Linked DNA regions of Homo sapiens. The gene in region 1 interacts genetically with each later gene. Each region holds a gene or a part of one and is shown in the gene's direction. Other genes may lie near its edges.

Region 1 (5,765 bases):
CGCAATCTCAGCTCACCGCAACTTCCGCCTCCCGAGTTCAAGCGATTCTCCTGCCTCAGCCTCCCGAGTAGCTGGGATTACATGAATGTGCCATCACATGCGGCTAATTTTGTAGTTTTAGTAGAGACGGGGTTTCTCCATGTTGGTCAGGCTGGTCTCGAACTCCCGACCTCAGGTGATCCGCCCGCCTCAGCCTCCCAAAGTGCTGGGATTATAGGTGTGAGCCACCACGCCTGGCCTCGAGTTAATATTTTTTAAAGCACTTAGAATACACCTGACATAAAGTAGTAACAATGTGTATCTTTGTTAAAATGAGAGAGAAATCCCCAAAATGGCAAAGATAGGAAAAACAACCATGCTTTTCAAGTACTGACTTGCATTTTCAGAAGGTTCAAATTGGCACTAGACTTAGGTAATTGAATTAATCAGCATGACTGATAGGATAACTATAGTCTGATAAAGAAAACACCATGAAGGGCAGGGTGCGGTGGCTCACGCCTGTAATCCCAGCACTTTGGGAGGCCGAGGTGGGCGGATCACCTGAGGTCGGGAGTTCGAGACCAGCCTGACCAACATGGAGAAACCCCATCTCTACTAAAAATACAAAATTAGCCAGGCGTGGTGGCGCATGCCTGTAATTCCAGCTACTTGGAAGGCTGAGGAGGAGAATTGCTTGAACCTGGGAGGAGGTTGGGGTGAGCCGAGATCGAGCCATTGCACTCCAGCAAGGCTCTGTCTCAAAAAAAAAAACAAAAACTATGAAGTAAATTATGGTTGAAACATGTTTAGTTCTTAACTGCAGTATCTTGCATTTAAGGTGTATGTTCATAACAAGTTATATTTCTATTGTCATAAAGAACGTTCTATTAAATGCTTACTGGCTCAGAATCCTATTACTTTTTGCCAGTTAGATTATGGCCGTTTCTCTTTTAGTCTAAAATAAACTCAGCTGAAAAGTAACAATAAACACTTTATGTATACAGATTAACAACAAAAAATAGAAGGTAACCTGCTTGGTGTTAGATATTGTAATAAGCCAAACAAGTAACTTTTGTGTAAACACTGAAGTAAGTGCTTTGAAGAATTCATAAAAGTTTATGACTCTAATTCATGTGAGAGATAAAATGCATATACATCAGAAGATTACACAATGAAAGTATATGGCTAACGACTAATGAATGATATAGTAAGTGTTAAAAGAGATAAGATGGGGCAGAGGTCACTACTGATTGTAAAAAGTTTCATGAATGAAGCGAGACTTTTATCTGGGTCTAGGAAAATGAAGTCGTTACAATCATTACATCTTAGTACAAGCAAGGAATCAAATAGTATGTCTCTCATGTGAACATTTTAAGTAAATAACTGGAGAAAGTACTTCAACAAAATAAGGGAGCAAAATAATGTTGGCTCAAAATGAGGTCGAAAAGTTGCAGGGCTCGGATCGTGTTGCTAAAGGCATAAATTTGGGAGTCCTCAAGCTGTAGCTAATAGTTAACGTCCAGAGAAGGTAGTGTATATTCCATAGCCTCATGCAAAGGAATTCCAACTACGAAGACGAACCAGTTAAGGAGACCGAAAAGGGGGGGCCTGTATGGAAAGGCATAGCAACGAATGTAAAATTTCCCCAATAATACTCTAAAACTGCCCCACAGCTTTTTTAATTTTGAAAATTCAAAACCATTCAATTCAGCTCGCAGATTTTTGTGAGAAATAAGGAGATACTTGCAGCTCAGAAAAAATTATTAACAACTATCTAGAAAGTTACTGCTTTATCCCCCACTGTAAACTATACTACCACGACCCGGGATCCTTGTTCGACTCCTAGCCAAGGGGTTCCCACTGCGTTTCTGTTGGGTTATCCCAAACCTGTGATAGGATAGTAGCGCCCTCCCTGCCTCCGGTCGAATAAACACTACAACGTCTGACACTCGGTGCTGAAAGGAAATCGGGCGCGGTGTCTTGCCCACAGCTTGGGGAGCGGCCCCGGGCGCAATAACTGTCACCGGCGCCGAGATGCGGTTCCGGCGCTTAGGGCGCCGCTAAACTCAGAGCCCGGGAGTCATGGCTGCGGGCGGTGCCGCCCCAGGTAAATCAGTCCAGGAGCAGGGCCCGGGCCTGGCGTACACTCTCGGAAAAATGGGGGCCAGAGCAAACAAGAAGAGCGAAAGCAAGAGGGCTAGGCAGCCAGAGGCGGCAGCAAGACTCAAGACGCCAACGGCGCCGTCTTCCTGGGGCCCCAGGGCCTGCGCCATCCCTGGGCTGCCGGGGCACCGCCTCTCCACGCCCCTCGTCCGGCGGCGGCTGCGACTGCTTCCGAGGTCATGTTCCCAGGACGGGCGCGTCTTCAGGGTGGAAGCCTGGCGCACGTCCGGAGGTGCCGAGGACCCAACCAGCCCAAACTCTGGGGGAAATGACTCCCCTCTGCCCTCGCCCCGCGCTCTGCTACCATTTCCTTACGTCTCTGCTTCGCTCAGCGATGCAAAACGCGCGAGGCGCACGGCAGAGGGCCGAAGCCGCGGTACTCTCCGGGCCAGGCCCGCCCCTCGGCCGCGCCGCGCAGCACGGGATTCCCCGGCCGCTGTCCAGCGCTGGCCGCCTGAGCCAAGGCTGCCGCGGAGCCAGTACAGTCGGGGCCGCTGGCTGGAAGGGCGAGCTTCCTAAGGCGGGGGGAAGCCCGGCGCCGGGGCCGGGTAGGAAAGGCGGGGGAGGGGCTCCGGCCGTCTGGAAGGAATCCACGCGGCTTGAGGCTGTGGGGGAAGTAGGGTGGCGAGCGGTCCTTCTGCGCGCGGGGGGCGGGGGGGGTGGGGTGGTCCATTAGGGTCCCCTGGCGAGGGGGCGGCTTTCTAGTGTGTGAGGGCGACGCCCTAGAAGCTCCCCTTCAAAGTTGGCCCCACGCGCTGAATGTGGAAAGTTGACTGGGACCCAGTAGTTTCCCATCCCAAACCTGCTTTCCGAGAAGGGCTTCAAACCCAAAATGTGAATCCCGCCTCCCCTCTCAGCCAGAACTGTGGACTCGTCCCGGGGAGGGGCGGTGGGTGGGGCGGGGCTGGCGGGAAATTTCGGTTTTGGCGCGCTCCCTGCGGCGACGCTCATCGTGCGCTCTCCTCTTCCCCCGGTGGTCTCCTCGCTCGCCTTCTGGCTCTGCCATGCCCTGCTCTGAAGAGACACCCGCCATTTCACCCAGTAAGCGGGCCCGGCCTGCGGAGGTGGGCGGCATGCAGCTCCGCTTTGCCCGGCTCTCCGAGCACGCCACGGCCCCCACCCGGGGCTCCGCGCGCGCCGCGGGCTACGACCTGTACAGGTGAGCGGGGACCTGCCGGCGAGGAGGCTGGGAAGGGCCGGCCGTCCGCTGCCACAGCTAGAAACAGTCACCGGAGAGATCACAGGAACACACTAGCTATAAATAGGATTTCTGCCTTTTTCGTGTTTAAAATTTTAGCTTTCATCTTTGGCATAAATTAAATAGAGATTTGGGCAAAGACTGCAGAATAAGTAAAATAGCTATACGGTGTCTAGCAAGGCGTTACTTTGCAACGTTTATTGTGCCCTTCCTAAATAGAAGATAGAGAGGAAGGCCCATGGTGGCTTTCGAGTGGCCCGAGGGTGATGCTGTGCTCAATAGAAAAACCAAGGTGAGAGCCTAGATGTGAGCGTGAAAATACCTAAGAAGGATGAACGAAGATGCATCTGCCTTAAAAAGTTATTTTCTATACATTCATCCGGCCCAGGGCGGAATTTGAGAAGGCATCTGAAAACGAAAGGCAGAGCTGCCTGTAATCTACCACACTTTCATCTCTACAGCACGTTTTACCTGTACTAAAAACTTTCCGTATGCTGTTGTATTTAGTCCTCACAACAATCCTTAACTAGATAAGTGTTACTTTTTACACAGGCAGGAGTTTGTGAAGAGCTGAATTGATTTCCCCAGAGGCTTGAAGATGATATAATTTTTTATCCCGAATTTTGGGCTTTTTTTTTTTCATCTGACTACTGTGCCCAGTTCTTAGAACCATTAAGGTAGGAGAAAAGTAATGCTGAGAGGGAAGGAGATTTTATACTAAATCCCAAGCATTGGGATTTATTTTAAAGTATCTCAGATAATTCAAACATGAGAACTATTAGTCTAAGCACAGGAGAAGAGAAAGTAGTGCCTGATGATAGCAACAGAAAAAAAAGGAAAAGGAAAGTAGGTATGGACAATTGTAGCTGGAAAAACTACAGTCTCTTAATTTTGATGAATAAAAGTAGAGTGATATAGTTTGACTAGACCTTTCCAAAGTATATTTTGGAGCACTTTCTTGAGTCCTAGGGGAGTCCTTGATTTAAGATACCTTAAGTAGACTCCTAATAAACACAGGTGACTTTCTGTATACTGAAATTGACATGGAAATAATGGATCAGCAATAAATTAGGGCTTAACTGTTTAAAGAGGGATTTCAGTGAAAGAAGGGGTAGTACTGCTTTACCAGAGTTAATTAAGGTCTCCAAAGTAAACTTCCGGTTCTGCTCATTGTAAAATCTCTTAAATTTCTACCCAGGAGAGGGCCACAGTAATATCAAGAGTAGCAGCATTTGCTATGTGGACTTTAGAGGAATTCTGTTCCTAAGCAAGGTCCATCTCCAGGGGCCGTTCACGGTGATCAGCTGTCTCCCTCAGCCAGGAAATTCATAGCCTAAGCTTGGTAAACTACCAAGCCCTGCCTGACAGATACAACACAGTTCTTTATCTCTTATTTTGTCCACCCGTTTTTCTCCTTTCCTTCTGCATATTTTCCCTAATCACACAGATCATTGTGAGAATAAAATGGGTTAATATATGTAAACCAATTAGAACTGTTCCTGGCACACAGTAAAGGCTTAATCAATGATAGCTAGTATTATTAGTAGTATTTGGCCTTTTTTCTTTGTTCTTTCTTCATTTTTTTCCTTTTCAAACTATGGTTGTAAAGCATCCACCTTTTGAAAGTTTGCCTTTCTGCCCTTTCACGCTGATAAGTACCTCAGTTTCCAATAAACTTTTGTTCAGGGGCAAACATTTACAATGTTGACATCTCTTCACACCACCAAAAATATTCATGGAGAATTATTTTATCTAAAGCTGTCTTTTTAATAATAAAATAGCCACCTCTACCTTCTTCATAAACTTTTAAGATGAATTGGTAATTCATCATAGCAAGGTTGATTTTAGAAACTAAAGTTGCATTAATTCATTAAATACACTGAAAGTAATTTTGTATGCTTGGTCACAAAGAAAATATAAAAACAATTTTATAAATAGATTTGCAGTTATTTTCTTTCAATATTTTCTTAGTGCCTATGATTACACAATACCACCTATGGAGAAAGCTGTTGTGAAAACGGACATTCAGATAGCGCTCCCTTCTGGGTGTTATGGAAGAGTGGGTAAGTCATTTAAGAAACAGGTAACTATTTGTCAAGTTCTCCTTTGTGATAGATTCTTCATGTTTCATTTGGGGTAATAAGCAGGCAATATTGCTTGGGCTGTGTCCTAAAAGAAGCACCATTTGTGATAGCAAATGCACTCTTTGAAAGGCTTTATTTACATCTCTGCTTTGCCTCTTTTTGACCCTTTTATTTTTCTCCTTCCTCACTGGAGCTTTTAGGCTCACACTGGCCTAGAAGGCTGTTCTCAGAACATGGCATTTTATATTATGAGAGTAAAACTTCTGACCTGTTGGTCCCAGAATGTGTAAGCCTACTTAACCTTTTCTTGTTTGGCCATGGGGTTAGGGTAAGGGATACTC
Region 2 (5,168 bases), on another chromosome or scaffold:
TTGTTTGTTTGTTTGTTTGTTTTTTGCGATGGAGTCTTGTTCTGTTGCCCAGGCTGGAGTGCAGTGGCGTGATCTCGGCTCACTGCAGCCTCCACCTCCCGGGTTCAAGTGGTTCTCCTGCCTCAGCCTCCCGAGTAGCTGGAATTACAGGCATGCGCCACCAAGCCCGGCTAATTTTGTATTTTTAGTAGAGATGGGGTTTCTCCATGTTGGTCAGGCTGGTCTTGAACTCCCGACCTCGGGTCGTCTTCCTGCCTCGGCCTCCCAAAGTGCTGGGATTACAGGCGTGAGCCACCGCACCCGGCCCATTCGGTGGTTTTAATTAATTTCTCTGATGACTAATAAACTTGAACATTTTTCCATAAAAAGGGGGATTATCTAGAAAAGTCATGTCTGTGGACCATCTTATTGCTTGCTATATCCAGATAAATGTAGCATTAGTTATAATCCTCGTTGACAAAGAGTAAGACAAGGAGCCCAGCAAATGGTCAGAGTATTCATCTAAAACCCCTATAAGTTTTTAAGGATTTACAGTTTTGGAGCTTGACTTAGGCCATTAAAGGAGTCAAGACATTTTGAAACTAGAAATATGAAAGTTTAAAACACTGAACTCTATAAGGGGAAAAAAGTCAGTTAAAGAATAGTGTTTATGGTATGGTCTAATTTTTATGTGAAACTCTACTGTGTACATGTGTATTTATATGTAGCTGATTGAATAGATAGAGGCAAAGGTATTGGAATACCTTAACTTTTCATGTTATTCTTATTTCCATACATAATGCTTACTGAGCACTTACCTAATGTCAGGCACTGTGTTAGGTGGTAAGGGTATAGTGTTGAGCATGATGGACAAGAACCCTGCCTTTAAGGAACTCAGCATTCTTGTTTGGAAGATCATACTTTTGGATTGTCTGGACTTGTTATAGGAAATGAAATTTTTATAATTTACTGAAGAAAAGTTAAAAATTAGAAATAGTAACAAGCTGGCCCAGATTGATTATAAACAAATATTAAAAAGAAATTTAAAAAAATTAAATAAGAAGAAAAATGCATCTGGTCTCTTATTTTTGTACATTTTAGGGGATTTTCTGAATGAGGAAGATAAGCTATTTTATATTTATGATCCTGGTTTTCATGTCTTCAGTTGTGTTCATTGATGCCTAGTACTTTGGTAGTTGACTCAACTTCACATCTGAATATGATATTGTTTCTCTGCTTAGCTCAGGCTTACTGAGCAATGTAGTATTTTCCATGTAATAAGTTAAGGTCTGTTTGCTTGACAGGTGAGTACAGACCACACATGTATGGGCGTTGTTTGCCATCAAGTTAGGAGCCTAAGAAGCTGATGCCCTATATTATTGTTTCCCTTGGAGTCATGGTATCTATCTGTCCTACTTTTTTTTTTTTTTTTGAGACCGAGCCTCTCTCTGTCGCCCAGGCTGGAGTGCAGTGGAGCGATCTCAACTCACTGCAAACGCCGCCTCCCAGGTTCAAGTGATCCTGCTGCCGCAGCCTCCCAAGTAGCTGGGATCACATCCGGCTAATTTTTTTTTGTATTTTTGTAGAGACAGGGTTTCCCCATGTTGGCCAGGCCGGTCCCAAACTCCTGACCTCAGGTGATCCCCCTGCCTTGACCTCCCAAAGTGCTGGGATTACAGGTATGAGCCATCGTGCCCAGCCTGTCATACTTTTTAAAAGTGATGGGTAAAGCACTTAAGGGGTCTATATTCAAGCCAAGAGCACAATTTTGCAGTAGAAAAAAGAGTTGCAAATCAAGCCCTGGATAAATATCTCCTGCTATTAAATGCAGATGGCTTCTTCCCAAAGAAAGAAAAACTTTTTTTTTTTTTTTTTTTTTTTGAGACTGAGTCTCGCTCTGTTACCCAGGCTGGAGTACAATGGCATGATTTCGGCTCACTGCAACCTCTTGTATCCTGAGTTCAAGCGATTCTCCTGCCTCAGCCTCCCGAGTAGCTGGGACTACAGGCACATGCCACCACGCCTGGCTAATTTTTTGTATTTTTAGTAGAGACAGGGTTTCACTATGTTAGCCAGGATGGTCTCGATCTCCTGACCTTGTGATCCACCCGCCTCGACCTCCCAAAGTGCTGGGATTACAGGCATGAGTGACCACGCCCAGCCTGAAAAACTTCAATAATTTTATCTTTAGCTTTTCCCTAATCCTACCCCAACCCCATGTTGTTTATCTGACCTATATTTTCATTCTTGTTCTTTTCCCCTCAAATCTTAAACAAGGCTTTCTACCAAGGTTCCTACCTATTTAGAAATGCCAAAATACAAATAATGTATATAAATCTATATTTATATACATATTTCTATCTCTGTAAAGATATCAATTTCTCTGAGCCTTTTAGAGGCTCAATAACTATTTCTGTTTCTTAGTTTGATTTGTCTTTGCAGGTTTGGAATTACAAGCTTCGGCGCTGTCTTTTCACATTGCTTGGGCACTTAGATTATATTCGCACCACGTTTTTTCATCATGTAAGTAGTCATGGTGGCGCTAGTTTTGGAGCATTCTTAGTTTCCCCATAGTAATCTTTATTTGATCCTTGAGAACCCATGTTTTAATAATAGAGTTGTTTTTGGAGTGGCTCTTCTACAATCTGTGTGGTATTGTCCTTTCTGCTTTTTTTCTTTCTGCAAAAGGAAGCACTTGGGATTATACTGAATTTAATTTTATTGGATTCAGTGGATTCTATGGGAAGTCATTGTTTCTCTGTAGGGAAAAGTAGGGATTTGATTTCAGATTTGCTGAACCAAAAAACAAAAGTTTGCCAGCTAATCCCATGTAGGGTATTATTAGTAAGTAGTAGGTGTGTCTGGAAGAAGGTCAGACTAAGATGCCATTTTGATCAGCTAACAAACGTTTCGAAGTATTAACAATCATACCCCTCTATCCTAGGATTTTTGGGTCTGGTGGAGGCTGTTCCCTTAGCCAGGCTTACTACTTTCTTTGATCTGCCAGGTAACATAGTAGATTTAGATAGTGAGGTGCAGATTACAGACTCCCAACCTCTGAATCCAGTTGCACCCTGACAGGATCTCCTTATAGTTCTGTGTATTAGCATTAACTTACACTATTCTTTGATTGCCAGTAAATTAAGTCTCTTTAATTAAGTTAGAAAGAATATGATGAAATAAACAATTTACTGGTTGAGTATATATTATTTCTTTTTTTAATTAAAAAATTCTAGGATAGGAGAGAATGAGAAAATTACAGCTTAAACATTTGAGAATGATAACCACTCAATAAGATAACTTATTAAGTAGGAATTATTTGTCATTGCCATAAAGGACTTCCTGAAGACCCTTGCCTAGAACAAGTTGCCATCTACCTGGAAAGTTACGAAAGACCTTATTTTCTTTCATTTTACCAGCTCACTAAATATGTGTGTGCCTTATACTTGCTAAGCTTTGTGCTAAATACTGAAGGTAGAGATACTATCTCTATTGAAAATAGAAATACCATCTATTTTCAGTGTTTAACACAAAGCTTAGCAAGTGTAGTAAGAAGGAAGTGTAAATAAGAAATACTTCCTTTTCTCAACAATCTTATAGACTCCAAAAAGGCTAAATTGTCTTTACATGTTACTTTCTGCTTTGCTTGCTGAGACCTGGGAATTTTTTGAAACTGGACAGAAAGAAGTCAGACAATAAAATAATATTCCCATCCTAGAGTTAAAGGTAGAAGAGTCTTTCACAGGATCTTAATTTACATGATTAACTGTATATAAATACACACACACACACACACACATATAGAAGTAAATGTAAATGTATGTTTCACTATCTGCCTCTGAGAATGTATTGTGCCTCTAACTGGCTTCCATTCTTAAGTCTTATAGGTGAAAGTGCCGAAGTTGAGAAAAGCTGTTAGAGTGGTAGAGAAAAGGAGACAGCTAACCTGATAGCAAAAGCAGCAGCCCCTTTGCTAATGTAGCTGAGCCGTTAAGCAATGCAGTTCTTTAGAGAAAAATGATTACAAGAACCTGATAGAACAGATTTGTTTAATGTTTAAAGCCTTTGTCTGGAATATCTTTCAGGAATATCCCTGGATTCTGAGTGCCTCCGATGATCAGACCATCCGAGTGTGGAACTGGCAATCTAGAACCTGTGTTTGGTAAAGCAGGAGGCAGAGGGCTCGAAAAGAGTCTTCATTTTTCCTAGTTTTTCATAATGAGCTTCTCTTAGAACAATCTTCTCCCTTCTCAAATGGACTATGTCGGCTGATTAATTACTGATTGTATTTGTAGGATGCTTTTAAGTGCAAAATAATAAATGTAGAGGCAATCCCATATATGAATCTGGACTTCCAATAATTTCTTACCAGGAAGAGAAGTCATATAGCCTTTTAGAACAAGAACTTTTAGCTGGTTTTCAATTATTTTCCCATAAAACCTGAGTCAAGGTCTAGACCTTTGTCTTATTTTGTGTTTGGAGCTGGAGCTTTACATAGAACTTTCCATGAAGAGTTAGGGACCATTTAAAGTGATGGCCTTGGCCCGGCGCCATGGCTCATGCCTGTAATCCCAGCACTTTGGGAGGCCAAGGCAGGCAAATCACCTGAGGTTAGAAGTTCGAGACCAGCCTGGCCAAGATGGTGAAACCCCGTCTCTACTAAAAATACAAAAATAAGCTGGACGCGGTGGCGTGTGCCTATAGTCCCAGCTACTCGGGAGGCTGAGGCGGAGAATCGCTTGAACTGGGGAGGCAGAGGTTGCAGTGAGCCAAGATTGCGCCACTGCACTCCAGCCTGGGCAACAGAGTGAAATTCCATCTCAAAAAAATAATAACAATAAAAAATAAAGTGATGGCCTTTAAAAGGGATACCCTACTAAAATCTCACAGATAATTTACAGTATGGATTACTGAGATTACATTTATTTTGATATTTTAAAATATTTTTGAGAGAAGAGCTATGTAATCTTAGTCCTCCTGAAATTAGTAATATTTAAATACTAAAGCATTAGAGGCAAGAAGAGAACTATTGTTAAAATAGCTGACTGGGCTTATTATTATTAGTTCAGAATTGGTAGGATGACCTGCCTTTGTCTCCATAAAAGTAAAACTGGATAAGCATTTATTGAATATGGAGAAAGGTATTTAGTTTAGGAGTCTGTTGACTTCCACCTCTAATTTGGTATTGT

The links. A genetic interaction does not mean that the proteins touch.
Region 2: changes in DUT (region 1) and COPA together harm fitness less than expected from each alone (positive genetic interaction), as found in Homo sapiens cells (one large-scale study listed by BioGRID).

What each region holds. Positions count from the first base shown.
Region 1 is NC_000015.10:48,329,106-48,334,870, forward strand, and holds the start of DUT (deoxyuridine 5'-triphosphate nucleotidohydrolase, mitochondrial isoform 1 precursor), read left to right. Parts: upstream 1-2,323; 5' UTR 2,324-2,410; coding exon 2,411-2,690; exon of another isoform or gene 2,691-2,751; intron 2,752-3,091; exon of another isoform or gene 3,092-3,146; coding exon of another isoform or gene 3,147-3,162; coding exon 3,163-3,301; intron 3,302-5,311; coding exon 5,312-5,403; intron 5,404-5,765. UniProt on the Homo sapiens protein: Catalyzes the cleavage of 2'-deoxyuridine 5'-triphosphate (dUTP) into 2'-deoxyuridine 5'-monophosphate (dUMP) and inorganic pyrophosphate and through its action efficiently prevents uracil misincorporation into DNA and at the same time provides dUMP, the substrate for de novo thymidylate biosynthesis.
Region 2 is NC_000001.11:160,332,576-160,337,743, reverse strand, and holds part of COPA (coatomer subunit alpha), read left to right. Parts: intron 1-2,421; coding exon 2,422-2,502; intron 2,503-4,064; coding exon 4,065-4,141; intron 4,142-5,168. UniProt on the Homo sapiens protein: The coatomer is a cytosolic protein complex that binds to dilysine motifs and reversibly associates with Golgi non-clathrin-coated vesicles, which further mediate biosynthetic protein transport from the ER, via the Golgi up to the trans Golgi network.